Homo sapiens: one gene and its partners. The protein of the gene in region 1 binds, or shares a complex with, the protein of each later gene. Each region holds a gene or a part of one and is shown on either strand. Other genes may lie near its edges.

Region 1 (7,024 bases):
GCTACTTTTTAATTTTTTTTTCATTCTTTCATCACTCACATGAGGTTTTTTTTTTTTTTTTATGTTTTTTCTCCTTCACCAAACACATTTGAAATGCTTTACATGTAAACTGAAGATAGTCCAGGTACCAAGCATTTATTTATCATCATTTATCATCATTTCTGGATGGGCTAGATCAGCTCACAGATCCCTACAGCTTTGCCTGCCATCCACCTGCATTGCTGCAGGCTGTTTAACACTCTCACCTCCTCAAGTTAAGGTAGGCTAGCCAGTAAATAACACTTCCCCATAGGCTTACCTCAGACATCTTGCTTCACCCTACCATGGTACATTTTTAATTTAATTTTTGGTTTTATTTCAACAGCTTTTGGAGTAAAAGTGGGTTTTGGTTACATGGATGAATTATATAGTGGTGAATTCTGAGATTTTAGTGTATCCATCACCATGGTACATTATTAAAGAACTTTCTTTCAGTAACAGATTTTTTAACATAAAGGCCAAAGTTTAAATGAAATAGAAAACAAAATCACCACCACTGTTATAATGATCATGGAAAGTGATTTATGAAGTACAGGATTTACCATAAGCAGTACAGTGTCATCTTGTGATTTTTCTTCTTCCAGAAAGTTTCATGAAAGATTTATTAAATATATAATATCAAGAGTTTGCTTTTATTTGCATATTATTCCTTTGTTCCAGAGATAATTCTGAAGGTACTTTTTAAAAGTTGCTTATTCTGATATGCTATTTAAAATTTTTAGGGATATCCCTGTGGATTTCAAGTACATAGCAGAACCCAGTATGCACTCAATGCCTGCAGTGACTTTGTCTCCAAATGGTGAGTTAGTATGTAGATTGTATTTTTAAATGAGCTTCTAAGATACAGTGTGATTTCTTTATTCAAAAGAACTTTGGCCCCTTCCTTCTTGGGGAAGTTTGTCACTGTGCCATTATTTGTATAAGGTAATCTTTACAATATTAGAAAGAATTACTGGTTTTCATATGCAAGTCACCTCACCTACTTTTCTGTGTCTCTTTTTAAATAAAAATAAAAGAAACAATGATTTACAGCTAACATTGATTGAACATCAGATTTTTATTTAACAATCAGTTTTCTTTTCTTTTTTCTTTTCCCCTCCTCTCCCCTCCTCTCCTCTCCCCTCCCCTCTTTTCTTTTCTTTTCTTCTTTTCGAGACAGGGTCTCCCTTTGTTGCCCAGGCTAGTCTCAAACTCCTGGGCTCAAGTGATCTTCCCTCCTCAGCCTCCCAAGGTGCTGGGATTACAGGCCTAAGCCACTATGCCCGGCCAGAGTTTTCTTTTCTAATTCTCCTTCCAAACAGAATCACGTTCAGTAAATCATTTAATAATGATTTGGCCAAGGCAGAAGAATCACTTGAACCCAAGAGTTTGAGACTAGCCTGGGCAACATAGAGAGACCTCATCTCTACAAAATAAAATTTTAAAAATCAGCTGGCATGGTGGTGCACATTTGTAGCCCTAGCTACTTGGTCAGGCTGAGATGGGCAGTTTGGTTGAGCCAGGAGATTGACTATGATCATGTGACTGTACTCCAGCCTGGGCAACAGAGCAAGACCCTTCTCTCTAAAAAAAAAAATAGTAATAGTGATTTACTGTAAACTCTTTCAGGGGATAGGAAGTTTTGGTCTGATTCTCCATAATGAGAGAACACTTTAGCAATTCACTATAAAAGATTTTCTCAGGCAAAAATTAAGAAGATAAATCTATTTAATATTGTTTAATCCATTGTCTTTTACGTACAAGATAATTTGTGCTACAGATATACTGACAATATACTGATGTAATTATAGCTTTACATGAGAGTCTTAAAGTGGGAGTTCTGATGTTTGGGGGACCTTGTCATTGAAACCACTGTCAATTCACATAATTAACTCCAAGTGTAGGGCAAGGAAGAATTTGCTGTTCCATCAGGGCCTCTGACACAAGCAAATGGTAATAGTTGTCAAATGCTCTATCATTTTTATGAGAAGAGAAACCTAACTGAACCTTTTTTTGATCATTGCTAGATTATATACTTCGTCACTGTGCATCTATATTTCATGTAGCGTATTTTTAAACCACCTATTACAGATTTTGTGCCCATCTTGAACAAGGCCATTTACCCACTCAGGCATTATTTAAGTCTGTTTCCTTAGTAAGTAATGTTTACATGTACAGTTGGCCCTTTGTATCCATGAGCACCATATCCTGGGATTCAACCAGCACGAATCCAGAATATTCAACAAAATAAACAATAAAAAATAACAATACAACAATTAAAAACAACACAGCATAACAACTAGGTACAAAGCATTTACGTTGCATTAGGCATTATAAGTAATCGAGAGGTGATTTAATGTATACAGGAGATATGTAGGTTATATGCAAATACTATGCCATTTTATATAAGGGACTTGAGCATCTGTGAATTTTGGTATTGGGTAGGGGTGCAGATCCTGGAACCAATTCCCAACAGATACCAAGGGATGACTATATATAGGATGCAAGTATAGTCATGCATTCCTAACAACAAGGGTACTTCTGAGAAATGCAGTGTTAGGTGATTTTGTCATTTTGTGAACATCACACAGAGTACTTACACAAACCTAGATGGTATAGTCTACTTACCCTAGGCTGTATGGTATAGCCTGTTGCTCCTAGGCTTTACCCCTGTATGGCATGTTGCTGTTCTGAATAATGTAGTCAGTGGTAAGCATTTGTGTATCTAAACATAGAAAAGGTACAGTAAAATCTCAGCATAGAAAAGGTACAGTTAAAATTTAGCACTATAATCTTATGGGACCACTGTCATACGTGCGGTCCATCATTGACCAAAACATTGTTAAGTGGTGCATGACTATAGACGCTGCAGTTTAGGCTCTAGGGGCTTTGATGAATCCTAAGTAGAGAAAAGCATTGTAGCCTTTTAAAAAGTTACTATAATTTTTAATATATCTTTTTTTGTATAGTTTTATTTAATAACCCTAGGCTTTCTCACCCCTTAATCTTTCTTTATTCTGTAATTACCACAGATAAGTCTCTTTCTCCTATTTCCCATAGTTCTGTTGTCTATACTTACTATAAATTAATTTCATTTCACAACTTTTAGCTTATTTCTTTAACATTAAGCTTGGAATTTCTATATTTCCTTATTTTTTTAAAAACTTTTATATGAGAGTGCTCAATGATATAGGATCGTATATGCAAAAGCCATTAGTTTATATATTAATACCTCTTGCCAGTGACATATTTATAACATTTTACAGGTGGTATAGTAAATTTATTTTTTAGTATTATAAAGTATTTGGGAGCAAAACTTATATTAATCACAGTGAACATATTTAAAATAAAAAGTTTTAAAAATTGTTTTAGTCTTCCTCTAAAATACCTCATTTATTGAATTTACAGGAAAATGGCTAGCATGCCAATCAATGGACAACCAAATCTTAATTTTTGGAGCACAGAACAGATTTAGATTAAATAAGAAAAAAATTTTTAAGGGCCATATGGTAGCAGGCTATGCTTGTCAGGTGGACTTTTCACCAGACATGAGGTAAGTTTAAATCTTCTAATCCATTCTCGTATTCAAATATGATTATATAAACTGTTGTTGTACAAATAACACTTGACACATCACTCTCACATAATATGTTTTTATGAGAACTCGATGATCTGTCAAAATTGTCAAAATGCTGGATATAAAGGCAAGAACAAATTAGGAAAATTACATTTTGCTTTTTTTAGGTTCTTGCTTCAGTATATTCCCTTCTATTACTTAGGCTTATGCCCTTTAGCCACCTAATAAATCCCTGTCTATATAACCAATGCCTTATTTTCTCTGCTTTTCTAAGCAAGACTAGAAGTGCTATAATCACTGTATTGCTATGATTGAATGAACACCAGAAGAATTAATTGTGTATTACAGTGTTGCAGTTACAGCTTCACTACAGCTTGTCTGTGCTGAAACCTCAAATCCAGCTTTTGAATATTTCTAGGTCACACTGGATTTGTGAAGCCTACAGCATGGTTCTTAGTTAAAATGTATAGGCAGAAGTAATTTAGAAATCCCAGTAACTTTGTTTGTTTAGCCTAGTAATTGGGCCTACCTCTGATTCAGTCTTAGATGTATTCAAAAGATATTAAAGCCAAAAAGTAATTATGAAAGTGTTAGAGCCTACTGTGATAGAATAGATCTAAAGGTGTTCCCTAGCTATATGTGGAATTGGTTCTCCAGTCTCTGTTTCTGACTATCTAGAGACTGATTGTGTAACCTCATTCACTGTGGCTCCTGGGACTCCCAGTCTTCCCAGTTAAAAATAATTTTCTACTCTTAGATTGGTTGGGAGGTTTTTTTAATAGAATTTCAAATTATAGACTGCTTCATGTTCTACCATCTTATTCTGAGTATTGTATATTTGCATTGGATTTTTTTTTTAATGTTAACGTGAAAAGATAACGTCCCTATTCCTCATTCGCCTTACCAATTTAAGGTATTTTAATAATTTGAATTTATCTTTCTTCCCATTATAGTTATGTGATTTCAGGAGATGGAAATGGAAAATTAAACATTTGGGACTGGAAGACCACAAAACTCTACAGTCGATTTAAAGCTCATGATAAAGTGTGTATAGGTGCAGTGTGGCATCCTCATGAAACTTCTAAGGTCATAACATGTGGTTGGGATGGTCTCATTAAATTGTGGGATTAATGAGATTAATCCTTAAACTAGCTGGGATCATTTTTGATCCATTGTCATATTTATATTTAATTATTAAATGTATCTGATGATAACTTGATTTACAGATAATGTTGATGACATTGACCCTTTGTTTAAAAAAAGAAACTGTAAATTTGACATAATTTCATTTGCAACTTCATTTTGTTTTTTATAAATGTTATTTATACAGAAAGTGGCTATTGACTTTCTATTTGACAAGTAGTTATAATTGGCAAGCAGTTTGAGTTTATACTCATGACATACTGAAAGCATCTCTTTGGGGTCAAGAAAGAATCCCTAGTGGATTTGGGATTCTAGAGGAGGTGTTATAATTAATTATTCAGAAAAATGCATGTATTTACCTCTTCAACCAAAAGGGCAGTAAAGAATAGGGATAATATATTTTAATGTAAATTTGGAAGAAGGATAAAATCACCCACAGTTACTCTCCCTATTATTTTCACTGGGTCAAGTTTTAATCTTTTGGCTTCATGAGTTCCACTCCCTTTGATGATATATGTTGTATATTTTTAGTTGTAAAGCAGTAATCTTTAACTGTAGCATTCCTCTAATTATAAACAGTGAAAAATCAAAATCAGTCCAGAGTTCTTTTGTTGACTTAATTCCTGATCAGTATAGACAGGACTATATATATTTAATCAGAGAATTACATTATATCTGAAGATGGAGCTCAGGAGAATGCACCAAGACTTTGAATTGTATTTACATTCACTGTCAGTAAAGACCTGGCTACGCTTTGAGAAATCAGGATCTCCTAGGTCATTGCTTCGCAGCTGTGATTACTGAAATCCTCCTCATAGGAGATAAAGTACGAGGGGTAGAGTCCAAGATGTCAACTTGTAATTTCTTTGAAGTCATATGTTTTATCTTTAAAATTATTCTTATTTTACCTGTGAATATATACAACAGAACTTTTTAAGATTAAAAAATTTTTAAACCTCTATGTCTGAAAAAAAAAATGACACTCCTGGAAGATGGCTAGGGTTCCCCAGTTTGAGAAGCAGTGGCCATGGTGAAAAATAGTTTTTGAAAACATCAGATTATAAAATCAAGATAGTCCGGACGCGGTGGCACATGCCTGTAATCCCAGCACTTTGGGAGGCTGAGGCAGGTGAATCACCTGAGGTCAGGAGTTCAAGACCAGCCTGGCCAACATAGTGAAACCCCGTCTCTACTAAAAACACAAAAATTAGCCAGGCTTGGTGGCTGGCGCCTGTAATTCCAGCTACTCAGAAGGCTGAGGCAGGGAGAATTGCTTGAACCCAGGAGTGGAGGTTGCAGTGAGCTGAGATCATGCCACTGCACTCCAGCCTGGGCGACAGAGCGAGACTCCACCTCAAAAAATAAAATCAAGATAACCTCTTGAATGTAATAGCTCATAGCACTTTAATTTGGCAAGCCATTTTTCCTGTTTTATTATAAATCTATATTAGATGTTTGAATATGGTTTGAAATATTTCACTACCGTGCTGAAAAAGGTTGGTTGATAGCAGCTTGGAGTGCTAACTGGAAGATCAAAATCATGTCTCTTGCTGATAACCTAAGAGCATTAAGCTCTGAGTCCAGTGAGGTCATAGCAGTGTATGCTCCTTGCCCTTACGGAGTGTCTGTTTTTAGAAATTTAGATTTTAAAAGGCGTGGGACATACGACCAGGCCCTATAGCCACATAAATATAAATTTCATAGAAAAAGAATAAAAGCGGAGATATATTTTTTGACACAGAGGCACCCAAAGAAATACAAACATTGCCTAGCTGCTGCCATTTCTGTAACTGCCCAGAAGGGTGACAGATTTCTGAAGGGGAAAGGATTCAGATATGACCTTTTCTTTAGTCCCAACCACTAGTTTTAACAAATGTGAATTATTGAAATGTGAAGGGACAAAAAGAATCATACATTTAAACTGTCTTGTTCAGCATACCAATATTGTATGTTACAAATCATCATTTCTAAATCTGGATTGATTCTGTTGTGTTTTTGACTGTTTCTAAAGTAAGTGTGTATAAAAGTCTCCTTTTTAAAAAGATCATATTTTTAAATAAAGCATTTTTTGTAGAAAGTGCTATCAAAATGTTCATCTTGTTCATCTTTAGTCTCCTTTTGAGTCTTAAGTGTATTGAGACACTAGATTAAGCCATTTGCAGTTTTAAATGGGTCATATGGAGAGAAATAATGCTTTAGAGGTGGATGTGGTTTATTCAGGTATATCAGTGGGTTTATAATTATATAATAAAATACATGGCAGTACCCTCAGAGCACATTAACACA
Region 2 (7,954 bases), on another chromosome or scaffold:
ACTCTTAGGCCACTGAAAATGAAGCCAAGTGATTTGACAAAGGCTGCTCACAGTTAGCAACATTGGTATAAGACCCCAGGATCAGCACTTATTCTACCACTCGACACTACACTTTCAGTCAATTATTCCTAAGATCCCTTCAAAGTCTTATAATAGCTAATATTTGAGTGCTTCATATCTGCCATGTATTAATCTAAGAGCTTTACTTCTCTTAACTAATTTTTCTTTTTAAAATTTTATCTTCATGACATTCAATAATTCTCTTCTTGACTATCCCATAAAACAGGCAATTATCATTGCCATTTTAAAAATGAGGACACAAGAGAAGCTAAGTAAACTCGCTCAAGATTGCAAAATATGAATGATGGGGATGGGATTCAAATCATTTTTAGGGACATTTTTTTCCTCCCTTTGTAGAGTGTGGAACTCTTGTAAGCATGCCTTTGTCTTGCACATCATCATATCCTTCCTCCCCAAATCTCCAGTGCCTAGCACAGTGTAACACACATGGAAATTGTCTACTAAAATAGTGAAGTATTTAATTTTACCCCATTTAAATTGTTAATTCATCAATTCAGTATGCTATTGATTGATGTTTATATATAAGGTACTTTATAAACCTGCTTTCAATCCCTAAAACTCCTCTACAAAGCAAGTAATCCTATTTTACAGGAATGAAATAACTTGTCCAAAACAACACAGCAAGAAAGAGACAAATCTTAGGCCATTCCAAGGGCCACACACACTTGCCACTAAACCACCCTTTTTTTTCTTTTTTTTTTTTTGAGACAGAGTTTTGTTCTTGTCACCCAGGCTAGAGTGCAATGGCGCGATCTTAGCTCACTGCAACCTCCTCCCAGGTTCAAGCGATTCTCCTGCCTCAGCCTCCCGAGTAGCTGGGATTACAGGCACACACCACCATGCCCAGCTGATTTTTATATTTTTAGTAGAGACAGGGTTTCACCATATTGGTCAGGATGGTCTCGAACTCCTGACCTCAGGTGATCCACCTGCCTCGGCCTCCCAAAGTGCTGGGATTATAGGAGTGAGCCACAGCACCCGGCCTAAACCACCCTTTTCAACACAGTCCCTGTTCTCAAAGACCTCCTAATCTGATAGGGATATCAGATATCATCATTCCAACAACACTCTAAACTCCCTTTAACTCTGTCTTTATATTTAACTATCTGGCAGTATGTCTAACCTAGCCCGGGACAGTTGCAGACAACAGAACCCACTTAAGCAGAAAGGGATGTATTGCAATAACAGACTTTGGCGGAACTTCCAGGAACAACACCTAACCCACAAAATAACACCAATTACACTGCAATGTGATAAGTGCTAAAGCAGAAGCTTGGGGGCCAGGCATGGTGGCTTATGCCTATAATCGTAGCACTTTGGGAGACCAAGGCAGCAAGATCACTTGAGGCCAGGAGTTTGAGACCAGCCTGGACAACATGGCAAGACCTTATCTCTATAAAAAATACAACAATTAGCCAGGCATGGTGGCACATACCTGTTATCCCACCTACTGGAGAGGCTGAGGTGGGAGGATCACTGGAGCCTGGGAGGTCGAGGCTACAGTGAGCCATAATCATGCCACTGCAATCGGCCTGGGCAACAGAGTAAGACTGTCTCAAAACAAACAAACAAAAGTAGTAGCTAGGAAGAGAAAGAGGGTCTGGGGGAAGTAGAGAAGTTAAACAGATAACTGAATAAGCCTTTTAGGATAAACAGAAATCCTCTAGCAGAGAATACTGTTCTTTGACCTCATTAGAACCCTGATTTATTGGCCTCTATTTTCTTCCAATCTATCAGCCCTCCCCTTTTTCTTCAGTTTTCTTCCAATCCAGCTTAGATTCCATAGCCCATCATTCCAACAACACCCTAAACTCCCTTTAACTCTGTCTTTATATTTAACTCTCTGGCAGTACCTCTAACCTGGTCAGGGACAGTTGCAGACAACAGAACCCACTTAAGCAGTAAGGGATGTATTGCAATAAAAGACTTTGGCAGAACTTCCAGGAACAACACCTAACCCACAAAATAATACCACCTTTGCCACAATCCAGGAAAGTTATGGCTATCACTGCAGCAAGCCACCAAACCAGGGAGCTATTGACTGGAGAAATTTACTGCCATGACTGGCAGCAAAACTGGATGACTCACACCCTCCTTCTTTCCACATTTAACTCAGTTCCAAATTCAATTTTCACCTTAGGTGCAAGGGAGTCAAGAAAATGGTTTTTAGTTTTCCAGATTTTTCAGGAAGAGAAGACATATTAGAGGTTAGAATGTGTCTTGAGCAAGCGATGTCCTTGCCATACCCAGAAAGGTTTTCTCCATGCATGCACTAAACCGCTGGATATGCTGGAAAAAAATTTTTTTTTTCCTTGCATCCTACATTTCTCTAGTAACCTCATTCTCCCACACTCCACAGTGACTTTCAAATCTTCTACAATATTCTCAAATTTCTCAAAACTGGATCCTCAACTGGATCCTGGATAATCCCTTATCCCCATCGGTTAGCACATCCTCTCCTCCTCTTTACAATCAGATCTATGAAAAATACTGTGTAGGTTCACTACCTACATTTTCTTGTCCAAATCCTTGCCTCATATCTGGCTTTTGGCCCAATCACACCAACAAAATAACTCTTGCTAAGGTTACTGTGACCTCCATGATGATAAAAGCCAAAATATGTTTTTCAATCTTCATGTTATTTAAATTCTAGAAATTTCTATCACAAATCATTCTTTTGCTTCTGAGACATTCTTCCAGTCCTCCTTCCTTTCTTCTGTATCTCCTGTAGGTTCACCTGTTCTTCACCATTAAATGTTGGAACTAGTCAAGGTTCTGACTTAGCTGACCTTACCCACACCTATGGCTCAATTCATGTATATACAAATTATGCCCAATTTTATATTCCCAACACAAATCTCTCTTCTGAGCACAAAGCTGTATTTCAAACTGCCTCTTGGATGTCATGAATGACCCCACACAATCAATCAATCAATCAATAAAAACTGATCTCAGCTGGGAGCAGTGGCTCAGGCCTGTAATCCCAGAATTTTGGGAGGCTGAGGCAGGTGGATCACTTGAGGCCAGGAGTTGGAGACCAGCCTGGCCAATATGGTGGAACCCCATCTCCACCAAAAATACAAAAATTGGCCGGGCACAGTGGAGGCGCCTGTAATCCCAGCTACTGGGGAGGCTAAGGCAGGAGAATTGCTTGAACCTGGGAGGTGGAGGTTGCAGTGAGCCAAGGTTGCACCACCACACTCCAGCCTGGGCGACAGAGCAAGAACCTGTCTCAAAAAAAAAAAAAAAACAAAAAAAAACTGGTCTCTAATCATCTTCTAGTGTTCCCTATCCAGCTTGAGGGATTCCGTGATAGTGAGTGAATGGTACCACCATCTATTCAACTACATAAGCCAGAAACCTAGGAGTTACCTTTGATTCCTCTCTTCACTCCCTAAAATCAACCCATCACCAAGTCCCACCCATTTTACCTCCTATATACCTCTAGAATCTGTCCAATTCTCTGCAGTTCCACCCATATCTCAGTCCTCACTGACATCTCTGACCAGGATTACTGCATATCCCAAGTGGTCCACATACATCGACTAGGGCTTCCCCAACCCCCGTCTGTTCACACCACTGAGCCTGAGGGATCAAGTCCCCTCCTCCACCACACCCCACTGGGGGAAGACGGCTCAGTGGTATCTCATCCGTTTTAAAATAAAAGCTACAAATTCCTGCAAGGTCTGACCGCTATCACGTACAGCTTCATCTTGTACCATACTCCCTTCATTCTCTTTGTACCAGCCACACTGGCTCTTTGTGCTTTTAGTCATTTTCCTCCCAAGTGCCTCAGGGCTCTGAACAAGTAGTTCTCTATGGAAGGTTCTGCCTTCACTTCTTCACCTAATTAATTACAACACTTCCTGCAGCTACCAGCGCAGGCATCTTTTCCTCTGAAAAACCTTCCTGCTTATTTCAGGCACTCATAGCATCAGGCAGCAGTAGGAGGCATTTCCATGTATTAGTGAGGTCATTGTTTAACGTTTTCCCCACCAGAGTTAAACGCCCTGAGAGTAGGGACCGTGCCCGGTTCACAACATACCCCCAACGCGCTGCTAAATGAATATCAGCAGGACGACTGAGGCAATGACCACGTTCATGGGCATGAGTCTCAAATTTCTCAACAAGACTGTGCTCTGGAGAAGGAGTCGGACATTTCCTTCATCACTGTCTCTCTCAGGGGGGCATACAGTAGGCCCTGATCAAAAACTGCAAAATCAGTGGCAGAAACAAGTCAGCCTCCTCGGCCAAATGGGGCACCGGAGGAGGCTGGGACGCAGGCCTTTCTCCCTGGGAATGCCCGGCACAGGACTGGCCACGATGGGCGCTCTTGAAGAAGGGAGCCGCAGGGGCTGGGTCTTGCCGCCAGAGACCCCAAGGCTCCGCTCCTGCCCCGAAAGGGAGCCCAGGCTACTACTTACCACAGCTGGGGACTCGGGGCCCGCCTCCCACCCCTTGCTGTCAGCACCCTCAGCTGAGAAGGGCAGGTTCAGACTGCACAACCGAGGCGTCGCCTCCAGACTCAGGCAGCCACCCACCCCGTTCTTCCTCATACGTACTAGGCGTCAGCTCCAGGTCCCCGAGTCGCTGCGCTGAACTAAACGCCGACCCCAGTCAGCCAGCGCGTTTCCACCCACAAGACCCAGCGCGCCTAGGGCGGTCGCCAGCTCCGTCCACCAATCCTGGTATCGCACTCTCATGACGTCAGAAAGATATGCCCAATAACAAGAGACTATCCGAGGGCGGTGCAAATGGAAATATTGAAAGCCGATTGGTTCTTCCAAGCTGGAAGTTGTGGAGGAAGGACTAATTTGGAACCAATTGCGTGGCGCCTGAGAGCGGCAGCGCGGTCAGTGGCGGCGCTGAAGAGACCGGTTGCCGCCATGATAGAACAGCAGAAGCGTAAGGGCCCAGAGTTGCCGCTGGTTCCAGTCAAGCGGCAGCGGCATGAGTTGCTGTTGGGAGCGGGGTCTGGCCCAGGAGCCGGGCAGCAGCAGGCGACGCCGGGAGCCTTGCTGCAAGCGGTAAGTGAAGAAGCAGGCGGCCTTTGGCCCTCAGCTCATCTTCCTCCCCTCAGAGCGCTGTATCTGGTGATCCCTGACCCTTTCCCGCATTGCGGGGGCAGAACGAGAGTTTCTACGCAGAGTTAAAGCACATAAACACTGTAAAAGCTCCCCATAGCCTGCGAATGCTGCGTACGTGTTCCCCCGTTTGGCGCCCGTTTTCAGCCTCTCGACTGCCCTGAGATAGCATTAGAATTAGAGTTGAGGACCTTGGGCTCAAAACCCTGACCCGGGTTTAAGCATCCTGACTCTAACATGGATCTGGCATAGAACAAAAATTCCGAAGAGTGTGTAGAATGAATGAATGAGGGAGGGAAGAAAAAAGGGAAATGATTTGTGTTGGCTCGTTTTGGGACTTTGGGCAAGTTGCTTTTCCCTTTATTTCTCTGCACTAGTATTATTAACAACTAAATAGCAGCTAACATTCATTGACTCTTGTACTAAAGTGTTTCGTATATGAAATTTCCATTGATCTTGGTAGCAGCCTGTTAGGAACGTTATTAACCCATTTTGCAGATGGAAAAACAGACTTACCAAGTACGTGATAGAAGCAGATTTCGAACTGAGAAACCATGCTCCTAACTACATTTTTTGTAAGATAGAAATAGTGATCACACTTCTAATGTCCTGTTTAGGCTCAGACGAGGAAATACGAGTGTCCTCACATCTCCTCAATAAATCCTGCTGGCACCGTCCTCAAAATAGGTCTAGAATTGCTACTTCTACCATCTCCATCATTGCCTCATGGCCTAAGCCATTATTATCTCATCTGGCATTTTTGTAGTGGGACCCTAACTGGTCTTCCACTTTCTACCTTTGTATCAGCACCTGTTACCAAGCCAATAACCAAAGGAATCCTTCTAAACATCAGATCACATTACACTCTGCAGAAAACTTTCTGGTGGCTTTGTACTTCATCCAGAGTAAAAACCAAAATTCTTGTAATTATTTGCCCTCTTTCCCTTTACCTCTCTGACCAATTTCTTATTGCTCACCTGGCTTCAGTTACTCTCTCTTCCAAGCCTCTGCTTCAGGACCTTTGCATTTGCTGTCCTCTCTGTGGGATTGCTCTTCACAAATGTTTACATGGTTTACTATTCAGCTCCTGCGAATATTTGCCCAAATGTAATTTTTTCAGTGAGGATTTTCCTGACCACCCTATTTTAAATTGCAGTACCACATACTGTGGAACCCACATTGCTTCTCTCTCTCTCTTTTTTTGTTTTTTTGTTTTTAGACAATCTCTCTGTGTTGACCACTGGCTCAGTACAGCCTCCACCACCTGGGCTCAAGTGATCCTCCTGCCTCAGCCTCCTGAGTAGCTGGGACCACAGACACACACCACCACATCTAACTAATTGTATTTTTTTGTAGAGACAGGATTTCACTCCTGAGCTCAAGCAATCCGCACACCTTGGCCTCCCAAAATGCTGAGATTACAGGCATGAGCCACCATCCCCATCCCTTCTTTTGCTCTATAGCACATGACACCACATATATAGTTTGCTTGTTTTCTCTCACCTTCCCTTCTCCCTTCCCCCTTTCCCACTGGAACAGCGAGCTCCATTGTTTATTTTGTTCATTGCTGTTTGCCCAGTGCCTAGCACGTAACTTCTTTTTTTTTTTTTTAAGATGGAATTTTGCTCTTGTCACCCAGGCTGGAGTGGAGTGGCGCAATCTCGGTGCACCGCAACCTCCGCCACCCGGGTTCAAGCGATTCTCCTGCCTCAGCCTCCTGAGTGGCTGGAATTACAGGCGCCCGCCACCATGCCTGGCTAATTTTTGTATATTTTTAGTAGAGACGGAGTTTCACCATGTTGGTCAGGCTGGTCTCAAACTTTTGACCTCAAGTGATCCGCCCACCTCAGCCTCCCAAAGTGCTGGGATTACAGGTGTGAGCCACCGCGCCCAGCCTGCACATAACATTTTTTAAAACTAAATGAATCTGGCCGGGCTTGGTGGTGGGTGCCTGTAATCCCAGCCACTCGGGAGGCTGATGCAGGAGAATCGCTTGAACCCAGGAGGCGGAGTTTGCGATGAGACGAGATCACGCCATTGTACTCCAGCCTGGGCAACAGAGCAAGACTCCTTCCCCAAAAAATAAATAAATAAATAAATAAATATGAAAATGCTGGGAAGTACTGAAGAGATTTGGGGATTATGGGTAGTATACTTCTCCCATTTGACAAGTGAGCATATCAGCCCATGTTTAGATGAATTGCCCAAGTGTCATCTTGGTGTCCAAGACCATAATCAAAACTACTTCACCCATGCTGAGGATCCGTTTGCTATGAAAAAATAAGAAATAAAAATAGGCCAGGTGCAGTGGCTCATGCCTATAATCCCAGCACTCTGGGAGGCCAAGGCAGGCAGATCACATGAGGCCAGGAGTTTGAGACCAGCCTGGCCAACATGGTGAAACCCCATCTCTACTAAAAATACAAAAATTAGCCGGGCGTGGTTGTGCATGCCTGTAATCTTGGCTGCTCGGGAGGCTGAGGCACCAGATCCCTTGAACCCAGAAAGCATAGGTTGCAGTGAGCCGAGATCACACCACTGCACTCCAGCCTGGGTGACAGAGCAAAACTCTGTCTCAAAACACACAAAAAAAATTAAAAATAAAACAAAACTATTTCACCCAGTACTCCATACCAAGCAGAGTTGTTGGGAAAGTCAGTTCCATCATTTGTTAAATGAGCCAGGCCAAATGTGGTGGCTCATTCCTATAATCTTAGTGCTTTGGGAGGCCAAGGAGGGAGGCCAGGATTTTGAGACCAGCCTAGGCAACGTAGCAAGACCTCATCTCC
Region 3 (7,823 bases), on another chromosome or scaffold:
TTCTAGGACACATTCCTTGGAGAATCTTATAAAAACCATGGTCCTTTTTCCCAGAAAAATGTATTTACAGCATATAAATAAATTTTGCACATAATTTTAGGCTGCTCATATACCCCATGAAGTCTATCTTTGGTACTCCAGATTAAAAACACTTGGTTTAGAGGGACTTCTGAGGCAAAAGAGGATTTCTTACAAGTCTCTAATTTTCTACTTCATACAGAAACACATTTATGATTTTTCAGTAATAGTTAATTAGTATGATACAAGAGAACAGGGGTGTGGCTAGCCTAAAATAATGAATAACCTATATGCTACGATATTTATATTTTGTCTTTGAAATATATGCCCCCTAATTAGGCCCTGTCCTTCACTAGCTGACAGACCATGGACAAATTAGGCCTTAGGCTGTTATTTCATCTTTATACAATGGGGTTAGATTAGATCAGTGGTTCCCAGCTCTGACTACATTTTATAATTTCCAGAGAACTTAAAAAAAATTTTCCCCTGGGCTCCAGGAAATCTCTGGGGAGAAGCCAGGTGATTTTAACCTATAGTCAAGGTTGAAAACCACTGGATTACATGATGTCTGAGTTCTTTTCTGCCGCTACAATTAACTAGACATATGGGGTTTGGGGTTCATTTTTGTTTTTGTTTTGGGGGTTAAACACATCAACTGAGTTTGAGATGTCAGCTTAACTCTTGGGCTGTTCTGAATGACTGACCTGTTAATCCCTTACCTCAAATAATGTACAATAAATAAAAATGAATTGAGCATTCACTGTACTTTTCTTTCCCTTTAGGAAGCAAAATGAAATTTCTGCAAAAGAAATGAAATCTCTGATTGTCTCCATCCTGAATATACAACAGAAAGTGCCAAAGAAAATATTTTTCTAAGGGTCAGGATCCCATGAAGTATTCTACAAAATTCTTGAAATTTTAAAAGGTTAAAGAGCGAGTCAGGCTGTTAGAGGAGGATTCTCCTGTTGCTGCTGTAGTAATCACTGGAGAATTGTTGGGAATGGTCTGGCACCATGCCATCTTTACTCTGTCTCCATTTTTTTTTTATAGCAGCCTTTTCTATGTGATTCTTGGGCTCATTCTCTGTTTTGTGCTTTGTCTGTGAAAGTAGTTGTGTTTCACAAGGAAAAGCCTTGTTGTTGTTACATTTAAAAAATAGCTCAAAGATGAGAATAATGAGAGAAATGCTGAGTTTAAGGTAGTAGAGAGACATGATGGAAATGGAGAACACTAGCCTTATACACATAATTCTCATCACTGAACTATCATGGCCCCTTTAAACCCATGGGCTGTTTGACCTGGGCTAAGGAATAGACTCATCACATATCTCCATTGTTTTGCCTTATATTATATCTAGGGGAATCTCACTTAGGAGGAAGCCCTACTTGTAATATTATAAGGTACTGTTATTAAGTACCTTATAAAATTAGACATCTTGCAACTCCTCCTCCAAATTATGTGGCATTTGAGTAGTTTGCTTGTGCCTCACATGTCAACATTAAACTTTGTGGAGGCTGGATGCAGTGGCTCACACCTGTAATCTCCACCACTTTGGGAGGCTAAGGCAGGAGTTTGAGGGTGGGAGTTTGAGACTAGCCTGGGCAACATAGCAAGATCCCATCTCTACAAAAACATTTTAAAAATAAGTAAATAAATTTAAACTTTGTGAAATTATAGCTAATATGAAAATGTCCTTTCAAGGGCATGGGAGCCACCTTTATTTTTTAGTGTCCACCATGTGCCATGCACTGTGGTATATGTATGCATATCATCTCAACCAATCCTTAAATCAACCTTATGAGATAGATATTTGCATCTCCATTTTACTAATAAACTGAGGCTGGGTGCTATGGCTCACGTCTGTAATCCCAGCACTATGGGAGTCCAAGGCGAGTGGATCATTTGAGGTCAGGAGTTCGAGACCAGCCTGGCAACATGGTGAAACTCTGTCTCTACTAAAAATACACACAAAAAATTAGCTGGGTGTGGTGGCAGGTGCCTGTAATCCTGGCTGCTCGGGAGGCTGAGCCATGAGAATCGCTTGAGCCCAGGAGGCAGAGGTTGCAGTGAGCCGAGATCGCGCCACTGCATTCCAGCCAGGGTGACAGAGCGAGACTCCATCTCAAAAAAAAGAAAAAAGGAAAAGAAAAAAGAAAAAAACAAATTCAAAGAAGTTAAATACGTTGCCCAAAGTTGTACAACACAGAACTGAAGCCAAGACTTTTATGGACACAGAAAAAGTTGGTTAGTCCTACAGATGGAAATTTCATCTCAGTAGGATTATATAGCTATTTCTTTTATTAATAAAAATTTTCTATTAAGTGTACCAGAGCCACTTTTCAGCTCTGAGGATAAGGAACTTTATAGGTGCCTAGATGAGACTCTTTTTATTCCCCTAGAAATGTTGAAATTTTTGCTCTAATTAAATTAGACTCAAAATATGAACATTCCTTGAACATATACCACTTAGTCATCCAGACCTTTAATATCTAAAGTAGTAGTAGTAGTGATTGGAAAGAGAAAGTTTTCAGTGATGGTGCAGTGTTTTTTTTGTGTGTGTATGTGTGTGTGTGTGTGTTTTGTTTCGGTTTTTTTTTTTTTTTTTTGAGATGGAGTTTCGCTCTTTTTGCCCAGGCTGGAGTGCAATGGTGTGATCTCGGCTCACTGCAACCTCCGCCTCCCGGCTTCAAGCAATTCTCCTGCCTCAGCCTCCTGAGTAGCTGGAATTATAGGCACCCGCCACCACACCTGGCTAATTTTGTACTTTTAGTGGAGACGGGGGTTTCACCATGTTGGCCAGGCTGGTCTCGAACTCCTGACCTCAGGTGATCCACCCACCTTGGCCTCCCAAAGTGCTGGGATTACAGGCATGAGTCACTGCACCCGGCCTGTGTGTGTGTGTGTGTGTGTGTGTGTGTGTTTTCAAACTCATGGGCAAATTCAAGTTCAGATGGTGCACTTTTCATTGATTAATGTTATAGCAAATGTCAGTTTGTTTTCTTCAGTTTCTGCTGATGGTTTTAACTGGCACAGAAAGTATTTATTCAACCTTACAAAACTGTGTAAGTTGTATTGTGATACAGTTTATTGACTTGTACAGTATTGTCATTACAACCCATTCAGGTATGCATGAATCTGAAGCAGAACACCATTTAAGACTGGTGCTGTATAATATAATTCCTACAGATGTGGGTCCAGGGAATAGAACTGAGCCTGTCTTTTTTTTAATGTTAAGCAGGTTACCCCCAGTGGGGCTTCTACTAGACATCTCTCCATTTGGTCTCTTCTTACACTCCAACCCAGCAGGAACAGTTAATAATTGGATGTTTATAAAATGGGGGTAAAAGGGTTTACTGTGATGGATCCTGGCTATCCCTCTAGGAGGAGACCTTTGCTTCAGCAATGGTGTCTTCATCCTCGCAGCCTGAAGCTGCTTCATTTCCTTAGGTCTGTTGTGTTTTCTGTAAAGTGTTAGGAATTCTGGATATTTTTGTAAAAGAATCAAGATTTGTATAAAATGTTGTTTACAGATCTTTTAATGAATAAATACATAAACCCCCCACAGATCCCTTGGAGAATTCTTTAAGATCTTTTATGTCACTTAAATCTATAGCTAGCACATTTACCTAATGGTACTTCGGTAATAAGAATTAGTCTTAGACTGACCAGGCTTAATAACGGAGGTCAACATTTCCAGGCTCTTGGCAGACAAAGGCTGGGTCTAGACTGCACACTGGGCAGGGCATATAGTCTGACAACTTTATTTGGTTTTTACCTGCTTAATCAAAGGGAGGCTGCTTAGTCCAGGAGCCATGCAGAAGAGAGTGCATGGGCAGCAGCTTGAGTGGTTCGGAGGCAGTGAGGAATGCCATTCTATTACCGTTAAGTCCTAAAGGCAAAATGACAGGATTTTTAAGGAACTGAGGTTCCTTTTGATACGCAGACCATAAAGCTTCACAATTTTAATTGGAGACTGGCGCCCAATTCTAGAGTCTCTTTAAAAAATGTACTTACCCAATGCAAAGGTTTTAAGGGCACCGAGGGGGAAGGATAGTTGGGGTACAGCAAGGAAGTAAAAGAGGAATGACCCGGGGTGCAGTGGCTCACGCCTGTATTCCCCACATTTTGGGAGGCCAGGAGTTCGAGGCTAGGCTTGGCAACATAGAAAGGCTCCATCTCTACAAAAAAAATTAAAAATTAGCCAGGCATGGTGGTGTGCACCTCTAGGCCCAGCTACTCGGGAGGCTGAGGTGGAAGGATCGCTTGGGCCCGGGGGGTTGAGGCTGCAGTGAGCTATGATCACGCCACTGCACTCCAACCTGGGCAGCAGAACAAAGACCCTGTGTCTACAATAAAAAAGGAAAAAAGTCTCGCACAGAGGAAGAGAAGATTAAGGGGAGAAGGTGGGAGTAAGCAGAGGTGGGAAACCAGTTTATCTCTCCCCGCCAAATGCTGCAGCCAGTTCCCTCCAAAAGTGTTAAGGGGCTCCCTTTCCAGATATCAATGTTTTGGAGGAAACGAAAAGCCCCAACTTCAAATCGCCGCCATTCGCAGGCAAAAAAAGGGGCAGTAAGCAGAGGACAGGAAATTGAGGCCTTTCGCTGACGCAGACAAGCCAAGACGTTACGTCACGTCCGCCCAAAACAAACCAGCCCGGCAATTTCTAGATACCGGGCGGACCCGCCTTCAAAATTAGCAACTGAGCATGCACTAACGTCAATACGGAGGGAACGTGATTACATCAGTGTCAGGCGCCGGCGTAATTAAATATAACTGAGTTTACGCAGACGCAGAAAACGCAGGCAAACCTGAGGTCCTCAGAATGGCGGGCACAGGTTTGGTGGCTGGAGAGGTTGTGGTGGATGCGCTGCCGTATTTTGATCAAGGTTATGAAGCCCCTGGTGTGCGGGAAGCGGTGAGTGCGGGGTGTCTTTGTAGCTGACTCACTGCTAGCTGGCTCGGTACTGAAAGAAACATGTTACAATTTGCCACTTCTACCCTGGTCCCTATTCTCTTTCTTAGGCTGCAGCGCTGGTGGAGGAGGAAACTCGCAGATACCGACCTACTAAGAACTACCTGAGCTACCTGACAGCCCCGGATTATTCTGCCTTTGAAGTAAGTATGTCTTGAGCCTAGGTGTGAACGAGAATTCCTGTGAACCTTTATTTTGGATTGAGAGCTTTAAATTCCAGTTTTAACCATTGCCTGCATAGCTACTACTTACCTACTGTATAGGTGTCAGTCTATTGAAAACAACTAGATAGATAAGTCTTCTCCGAGGTTCTTATTCTAAGATCCATAGGAAGACTTTCTGGGGCTCCACAACTCACTTAATGCAAAAATTTGTGGCTACCATTCTTTGAGATAGGATCCATGCGTAAATTCTCAAAGGGACCCTCTCCTGCCAAGATTCACTCTACAGCAAGTGATCTAGGGTTTTTTAATATGTATAAGCCTAATTACCTAAGCTCTTTAGAACCACTGGAGAGTGGCATATTAAAGTCTAGTTATTTACCAAATGTATGTGATACGACTGAAAGGACAAACCATATCCAAGTGTATACTACTTTTTTCTCAGCCTTCTCCTTTTTTCTGTAATCTATCCGATGTTTTTATTAACACATTTCTGATTAATGTAGGCAATAATTTTCACTGATATGAATACTTTACAAGTGCTAGGTGCCATTCTAGATTCTGAGATCATAGAGATATATGGGGTTTCTTTTTTAATATATTTTGTTTTCTTTTAATTTTTCTTTTCTTTATTTAAGACAAACATCCTCTCCAAAAAAGATAGGGTTTCTGAATACAGAAAAATACAATACAGTGAGGAGCTAGATATATAAAACAAAAAGTTTACAATAGTATGTATAAATGTGTAATAATATGTAAAGGACCTATAGCGGAGGGTATGTATAAGGACAAGAGGATTAGAGAAGGGAGTGTCCATGATTGCCTAAGGAGTCAGATGCTGTTCTACTCCACACATTGAGTATGATACTATTTTAAATGTATAACCTTGAAGTACACCCAGGATTCTAGTTAGGGTCTAGTTAGCTAAATGAAATGTAAGATATCATTTCTAAATTATTGGATTCAAGTATTTCAGTATGTACAGCTTGGAGGATTTTTTCCCATTATACCTAATCGTTTATTTATGAAAGGATTGTATTATTAAAAGGCAGTATTTAGCTGGGTGTGGTGGCTCACACCTGTAATCCCAGCACTTTAGGAGGCTGAGGTGTGAGGATCACTTGAGACCAGCCTGGGCAACATAGTGAGACCCTTTCTCTACAAAAGAAAAATTAAAAAGTTAGCCAGGCATGATGGCATGCACCTGTAGCCCCAGCTACTCAGGAGGCCAAGGTGGGAGGATCACTTGAGCCTGGGAGTTCAAGACTGCTACAGTGAGCCATGATAATGCCATTGCACTCCAGCCTGGCAATAGAGTGAGACCCTGTCTCAAAGGGAAAAAAAAAAAAAAAGATATTATTTACATTAAAGTAACATGAAAAAATTGTTAGTTAAGTTTGTTGTTGTTTTTGTTTGAGACGGAGTCTCATTACGTCACCCAGGCTGGAGTGCAGTGGTGCCATCTCTGCTCACTGCAACCTCCACCTTCCGGGCTCAAGTGATTCTCCTGCCTCAGCCTCCCGAGTAGCTGGGATTGCAGGTGCCTGCCACCATGCCTGGGTAATTTTTGTATTTTCAGTAGAGACGGGATTTTACCATGTTGGCCAGGCTGGTCTTGAACTCCTGGCCTCAAGTGATCCACCCACCTCAGCCTCCCAAAGTGTTGGGATACAGGTGTAAGCCACCATGCCCAGCCTTGGCTGAGTTTTAAGTAGAAGACGTATGTTCCTATGAACGTGTTTTCCTATGCTTTTTCTAAATATTTGTACCTAGGTGTAGATGTTAACCACATTAAGAACTAAGTACAGTAATGCTTCCTTATTGGACTGATTTCTGAAGGTTTCAGATAACTGCATTCAATCACAGACTTTTTAAAATACTTTTGCCAGTTTTTTTCCTTCTCTCTTAAATACCTTTGTAATTAGTTTACTGATGATTTAATTAGTAAACTCCCAGGTTCAAGTGATTCTCCTGTAATTAGTTTACTGATTATTTAATCCTTTCTTTTTTTGAGACAGAGTCTTGCTCTGGTGCCCAGGCTGGAGTGCAACTCCTCGGCTCACTGCAACCTCTGCCTCCTGGGTTCAAGCCATTCTTCTGCCTCAGCCTCCCAAGTAGTTGGGATTACAGGCACGCACTACCATGCCCAACTAATTTTTGTATTTTTAGTAGAAACGTGGTTTCACCATTGTGGCCAGGCTGGTCTCGAACTCCTGACCTCAAGTGAATCACCTGCCTCGGCCTCCCAAAGTGCTGAGATTACAGGTGTGAGCCACCACACCTGGCATCCTTTCTTAGTAATAGTTGGTAATATTTACTGGGTTCACTGTCTTACTTGGTGCACATAACAGCTCTATAAACTATATAACTATGTTTGCTATCCCCATTTTTTAGCTGGGAAAACTGCAGCTTAGAGAGGCTAATTGACTAAGACCTTAACTGTTCTTCAAACTGCCTCTGAAATTACTCTTTCATTAATTCATTTAACAACTATTTACGAAGGTCTGTTCCATTCTGGGTATTGGAGAACAGTATCGGCAGGGTCCATACTCATGAACCTTAAAATCTAGAGTGTTGAGACAGACAATAAATAGATCAGAAAAATTGTTGATAAATGCTGCACAGAGAATGATAGTGATAAAGTGACTGGGCGACTCCAGGTTGGGTGGTTG
Region 4 (6,227 bases), on another chromosome or scaffold:
TCCCGTCATGCAGGCTGGAGTGCAGTGATGCGATCTTGCCTCACTGCAACCTGCATCTCCCAGGTTCAAGCAATTCTCCTTCCTCAGCCTCCCAAGTAGCTAGGATTAAAGGCATGTGCCACCATGCCCAGCTGATTTTTGTATTTTTAGTAGAGAAGGGGTTTCGCCATGTTGGCCAAGCTGGTCTAGAACTCCCGACCTCAGGGGATCCACCTGCCTCGGCCTCCCAAAGTGCTAGGATTACAGGTGTGAGCCACTATGCCTGGCCTCCACCTGGATCCTTTTACAAAGCACCTCAGTGAGTCAGAGGACAAGAAGGTAAAATCTGTTTTAAAAAATAACAGCCAACATGAGGTAGATACTATTATTCTCATTCCATTTTTTTTACAAATGAGGAAATGGAGGCTCAGAGAGGTTAAAAGTCACCTGCTTAAGTCCATAAGGAATTAGCAGAGCCAGAATTCAGGGACCCCAACTCCCGAACCCTTCTCTGACAAGCACTACACTATCTATTCAAAATACCTACTGGATCTTACTAAGTTGACAACCAAATACTTCAGAAGCTATAAATTAAAAGATTACACCTGGCGTGGTGGCTCACGCCTGTAATCCCAGCACTTTGGGAGGCCGAGGTGGGTGGATCATGAGGTCAGGAGTTCAAGATCAGCCTGGCCAAGATGGTGAAACCCTGTCTCTACTAAAAGTACAAAAATTACAGCGCACCTGTAATCCCAGCTACTCGTGAGGCTGAGGCAGGAGAATTGCTTGAACCTGGTGGGTGGAGCTTGCAGTGAGCCAAGATCATTCCACTGCACTCCGGCCTAGGCGACAGAGCAAGACTCCGTCTCAAAAAAAAAAAAAAAAAAAAAAAAAGACTCATCAGTGATGACACTTCTTCTAGGTATTAAATAACATAGTCCAGGTATTTGGTTTACTATTACAGGAAGAACTGCCTTAAGAGAAGTTAAAACTGTATCTTCCTTGGAGCCATCTCTTAGAAATCCTAATTCTGTCTCACATGCTAGGTGATTCTGATGGTTATTCTTGGACCATACTTTGAGAAATATGGCTCCAGATAAGTAGATATCTATTATCATGTTCATTGGATTAGATTCTCAACTACCTCTCTACTGAGAGGTGTATCACCCAGGTTGAGTCCTTATAATATTACTTAATCACTCTGACCCTTGTCTATAAAATGGAAATACTATTTACTTAGGTTTGTTGTGAGGAATAAATGAGGAAGGAGAAAATATTAAAAAGTAAACATTTTTAAAAGAAGTATGAGAATGAACTACTCCTACAAAATATAAAAACATACTATTAGGGCCAGGAGTAGGGGCTCACGCCTGTAATCCTAACACTTTGGGAGGTTGAGGTGGGCGGATCACTTGAGGTCAGGAGTTAGGAAACCAGCCTGGCCAACATGGTGAAACTCCATCTCTACCAAAAAGTACAAAAAAAAATTTAGCTGGGCATGGTGGCAGGTGCCTGTAATCCCAGCTACTCAGGAGGCTGAGGCACAAGAATCGCTTGAACCCGGGAGGCGGGGGTTGCAGTGAGCCAAGATTGCACCACTGCACTCCAGACTGAGTGACAGCGTGAGACCTTGTCTCAAAAAACAAAAAAAAAGACAGAAAAACAAAAAATATACTATTAAGTTGAGCCTTATGAAATGCTACTGCTTGGTCGTTTTTGACCTACAAAAATGGCAATGTCATAATTGAATCAAAATATAAAATTATAGTAATTCTTTAAATGAAGTATTGTTGCAGGAATAGGCAGACCTAGAGTATAGAAAAGCACATCCGTGAAACAGGCCCATGTGTACATGGAAATTTAGTTTACCAGAGTGGTATTACAAATAAAAATAAATTGGGTGCTTGGTGGTTTTTTTTTTTTTTTTTTTTGAGACAGGCTCTCATTCTCTCGCCCGGGCTGGAGTGCAGTGGTACGATCCTAGTTCACTGGAGCCTCAAACCCCTGGGCTCAAGCTGTCCTCCTGCCTCAGCCTTCTGAGTAGCTAGGACTACTAAACTCTTCTATAAATGGGTAATTGCGATAACTAGCTACCTGTTGGAAAAAAGTAAAGTTAATCCTCCTTTCACATTATACTCCAAAATGACCTGTAGATGTAACCAAATAACTAATTTTTTAAAGAAACTAACAATATTAGGAGAAATTATTTTTTAAAAGTATTTTTATGAGCCAGGTATAGTGGCACACCTGCAGTCCCAGCTCCTCCGAAGGCTGAGGCAAGAAGATCACTTGAGCCTATGAGTTTGAGGGCCAGCCTGGGCAACACAGCAAGACTGTCTCTATTTTATTTTTTGAAAGTATTTTTATAATCTTAGATAGAAAAGGCCTTTGTACGGGAGACATAAAAACCTAGAATCCAGAACAACAAAACATGATACATTGAATATCAAAATTTAGAACTACCTGATGAAAAACATCATAAAGTAAAAAAGACAAACAGCAGACTGGGAAAAATGTCATATATAAAATAGACAAAAAAATTAAAGTCTAGAATATATAAAGAACCATAGCTCAAAAAGAAAAAGACAATGGAACAGGCAAAGGATATAGGCAACAATCCACAGAATAAGAAATATATGACAGAAGAAAAACTAAAAAAAAAAAAGAAATATAAAAGATTAAATATGTAAAAAGATGCCAACCTCACTAGTAGATAAGAAAATGCTAGTTATATATTAGCACTGTATGACCCTTGGCAAGGCATTACCAGAACCCACCTCAACCCTGGCAAAAGGCTGGCATCAGAGTGGCATCTTACCTTTGACACATAGTAACGATCAACTCCAGAGATGCGCCTATCTCTTTCCATCAGACTCCAGTGATACCCAAAATGAGCAACCCTTTTTTCCTTCAAATAAGAGACAATTATTGTTGCAGTTTATAAAAGTGAGTGACCCAATTGATAGATACTACAATTTTTAAAAGGGACATTCCAGAGAAATGGAATCATCGTTTAAATAAAAATGCAAATTAGTAGTACAAAGAACAGAATCTCCTAAATAAAATCAGACCACTAAACTTTAGGATTAAGTTGGTACCTGTGACTTTTTACACTATTTTAACCAACATGAATTTTTTTTCCTTTTTTTTTAAAAAAAAAAAAAAAGAAATATCTAGTTGTTGTCTTTTGGGACACTAAGAAACAACAGCTGTAGATCACACGTGAAGAACAATAACAAAATCAAAAAGTAAATAAATTTATATCCTGTACTCTTGAGATGATGTGAAGGACTAGGAAGAGGGGAAAATGAATCCTGATGTAAAAAAACAAGATCTCGCAGTAAATTCCTAAAGGCTTGCAAGAGAAAGTGGGGAATAAAAAAGTCAAGGGTGGCCGGTCGCGGCGGCTCACGCCTGTAATCCCAGCACTTTGGGAGATCAAGGCGGGTGGATCAACCGAGGTCAGAAGTTCGAGACCAGCCTCGCCAACATGATGAAACCCCGCCTCTACAAAAAAAAAAAAAAAGCCAGGCGTGGTCCCGGCTACTCGGGAGGCTGAAGCAGGAAAATTTCTTTCTTTATTTATTTTTTTTTGAGACGGAGTTTCGCTCTTGTTGCCCAGGCTGGAGTGCAGTGGCGCGATCTCGGCTCATCGCAACCTCCGCCTCCTGGGTTCAAGTGATTCTCCTGCCTCAGCCTCCCGAGTAGCTGGGATTACAGGCATGCGCCACCACGCCCAGCTAATTTTGTATTTTTAGGAGAGACGGGGTTTCTCCATGTTGGTCAGGCTGGTATCGAACTCCCGACCTCAGGTGATCCGCTCGCCTCGGTCTCCCAAAGTGCTGGGATTACAGGCGTGATCCACCGCGCCCAACCAGGAGAATCTCTTGAACCCAGAAGGCGGAGGTTGCAGTGAGCGATTCTCAGGCTTGAGCCACCTTTTCTAATCTACCTTCCCGGCCCCCGCGTCGCTACTCTGCCCTAAGGCCCACTCTGATACACCCAGAAACGCTGTTTTTCACTAGAGCAGGATGTAGTTTCTATCGGGCTTCGTTTCGCAAGCCTCGGCTTCTAGGCAACCGGAAGCAAGTAGAGGGCCGACCTCGGAGAGAGGGTTCGCAGGCTGACGGTCTCCCTGCCCACCACCCTTTTCGGAAATCAGCCCGTGGAGTCGGCCCCCGGGCCGAAGCCGGCTTACCTTGCCCCCGTTAGTGAACCTGTGGATGTACGCAGTAGCCAGTCCTGGAATCAACAAGCACACGCCCATGACGGAGAGTCCGGGGAGAATCTCGAACCACATCTCTGCCCCGTTACCTAGGCCAAAACCCTACTTCTGGGTCCTTGAAAGGTGACCTGGCTTCGCCTCTCTTCCCAGCAAGCCCCGCGGCCGCCCGCGAGCGGGGCGGTGCCACGTACGGCTCCGGAAGAAGCGACGGAATCTGCTAGGGCACAAGAGAGACGGGCGCTCGGGCTCTCGCAGTCCTCTTCCGTCAGTGTCTTTTGCTTCGACTCCCGGCGGAGCGCGCAACGTGGAGTGACGTGCAGGGGCCAAGTGCAACCCAGGCAGCCACGGCTGTTTCGGAGCTCAGGACTCTAAAATGGCAGAGCAGCTTTCTCCAGGAAAGGCGGTGGATCAGGTGTGCACCTTCCTTTTCAAAAAGCCTGGGCGGAAAGGGGCTGCTGGACGCAGAAAGCGCCCGGCCTGCGACCCAGAGCCCGGAGAAAGCGGCAGCAGTAGCGACGAAGGCTGCACTGTGGTTCGACCGGAAAAGAAGCGGGTGACCCACAATCCAATGATACAGAAGACCCGTGACAGTGGTAAACAGAAGGCGGCTTACGGCGACTTGAGCAGCGAAGAGGAAGAGGAAAATGAGCCCGAGAGTCTCGGCGTGGTTTATAAATCCACCCGTTCGGCGAAACCCGTGGGACCAGAGGATATGGGAGCGACAGCTGTCTATGAGCTGGACACAGAGAAAGAGCGCGATGCACAAGCCATCTTTGAGCGCAGCCAGAAGATCCAGGAGGAGCTGAGGGGCAAGGAGGATGACAAGATCTATCGGGGAATCAACAATTATCAGAAATACATGAAGCCCAAGGATACGTCTATGGGCAATGCCTCTTCCGGGATGGTGAGGAAGGGCCCCATCCGAGCGCCCGAGCATCTACGTGCCACCGTGCGCTGGGATTACCAGCCCGACATCTGTAAGGACTACAAAGAGACTGGCTTCTGCGGCTTCGGAGACAGCTGCAAATTCCTCCATGACCGTTCAGATTACAAGCATGGGTGGCAGATCGAACGTGAGCTTGATGAGGGTCGCTATGGTGTCTATGAGGATGAAAACTATGAAGTGGGAAGCGATGATGAGGAAATACCATTCAAGTGTTTCATCTGTCGCCAGAGCTTCCAAAACCCAGTTGTCACCAAGTGCAGGCATTATTTCTGCGAGAGCTGTGCACTGCAGCATTTCCGCACCACCCCGCGCTGCTATGTCTGTGACCAGCAGACCAATGGCGTCTTCAATCCAGCGAAAGAATTGATTGCTAAACTAGAGAAGCATCGAGCTACAGGAGAGGGTGGTGCTTCCGACTTGCCAGAAGACCCCGATGAGGATGCAATTCCCATTACTTAGGTTTCCCATAATTCTTAAATTTAAAAAATAAACGTTTTGTTCTTTTGGAAGTCTTACTTCGTGTCCTTCCTTTGTAGAGAAAGTGACAGAGCAGGCGGGTGGTGAAGTAGGGTCCTGGATTAAAAGCTTCAAGGTAGGTATAATCAGGATTTTTAGCCCTAGGATAACCATTTTGCCTGTGTTTCTTTTCAGAACACTTTGGCATAAATTATAGGGGTGGGAGTAGTTTGAGAAAAGAGCTATAATTTGCTCGAAGTAACCAAAGCCATGATGAAAGCAAGACCTCTGAGCCTGTTTATTATATCACATTTCTGTATCACTTAATAGTTTACAAAGTACTTTCATGCATTCTTTCTCTTGGGAGCCTGTACTACAAAATATACCCGAGCCAAGGTGTTGGGGAGAGGGGTTGTGTTTGGGGAACTGGTAGCTAGCACCACAGGCTTCACATATGGGAAATGTTCCTTGCTGTCTTGGTTATTTATTTATTTATTTGTTTTTGAGACGGAGTCTCGCTCTCTTGCCCAGGCTAGAGTGCAGTGGCGCGATCTCAGCTCACTGCAACCTCCGCCTCCCCGGTTCAAGCGATTCCCCTGCCTCAGCCTCCCGCGTAGCTGA

Evidence for each region.
Region 2: CDC40 (region 1) and SNRNP40 share a complex: the UniProt entries of both Homo sapiens proteins name them as parts of the postcatalytic spliceosome P complex.
Region 3: CDC40 (region 1) and BCAS2 share a complex: the UniProt entries of both Homo sapiens proteins name them as parts of the postcatalytic spliceosome P complex.
Region 4: CDC40 (region 1) and RNF113A share a complex: the UniProt entries of both Homo sapiens proteins name them as parts of the pre-catalytic and catalytic spliceosome complex.

Annotation. Positions count from the first base shown.
Region 1 is NC_000006.12:110,225,406-110,232,429, forward strand, and holds the end of CDC40 (pre-mRNA-processing factor 17), read left to right. Parts: intron 1-761; coding exon 762-838; intron 839-3,426; coding exon 3,427-3,571; intron 3,572-4,548; coding exon 4,549-4,726; 3' UTR 4,727-6,827; downstream 6,828-7,024. UniProt on the Homo sapiens protein: Required for pre-mRNA splicing as component of the activated spliceosome. Plays an important role in embryonic brain development; this function does not require proline isomerization.
Region 2 is NC_000001.11:31,293,765-31,301,718, reverse strand, and holds the start of SNRNP40 (U5 small nuclear ribonucleoprotein 40 kDa protein), read left to right. Parts: upstream 1-4,930; 5' UTR 4,931-4,967; coding exon 4,968-5,108; intron 5,109-7,954. Other genes in the region: ZCCHC17 (zinc finger CCHC domain-containing protein 17), read right to left, coding at 4,506-4,637. UniProt on the Homo sapiens protein: Required for pre-mRNA splicing as component of the activated spliceosome. Component of the U5 small nuclear ribonucleoprotein (snRNP) complex and the U4/U6-U5 tri-snRNP complex, building blocks of the spliceosome.
Region 3 is NC_000001.11:114,578,609-114,586,431, reverse strand, and holds the start of BCAS2 (pre-mRNA-splicing factor SPF27), read left to right. Parts: upstream 1-4,816; 5' UTR 4,817-4,840; coding exon 4,841-4,933; intron 4,934-5,040; coding exon 5,041-5,133; intron 5,134-7,823. Other genes in the region: DENND2C (DENN domain-containing protein 2C), read left to right, coding at 801-832. UniProt on the Homo sapiens protein: Required for pre-mRNA splicing as component of the activated spliceosome. Component of the PRP19-CDC5L complex that forms an integral part of the spliceosome and is required for activating pre-mRNA splicing.
Region 4 is NC_000023.11:119,869,964-119,876,190, reverse strand, and holds RNF113A (E3 ubiquitin-protein ligase RNF113A), read left to right. Parts: upstream 1-4,457; 5' UTR 4,458-4,577; coding exon 4,578-5,609; 3' UTR 5,610-5,716; downstream 5,717-6,227. Other genes in the region: NDUFA1 (NADH dehydrogenase [ubiquinone] 1 alpha subcomplex subunit 1), read right to left, coding at 2,798-2,887, 4,178-4,279. UniProt on the Homo sapiens protein: Required for pre-mRNA splicing as component of the spliceosome. As a component of the minor spliceosome, involved in the splicing of U12-type introns in pre-mRNAs. E3 ubiquitin-protein ligase that catalyzes the transfer of ubiquitin onto target proteins.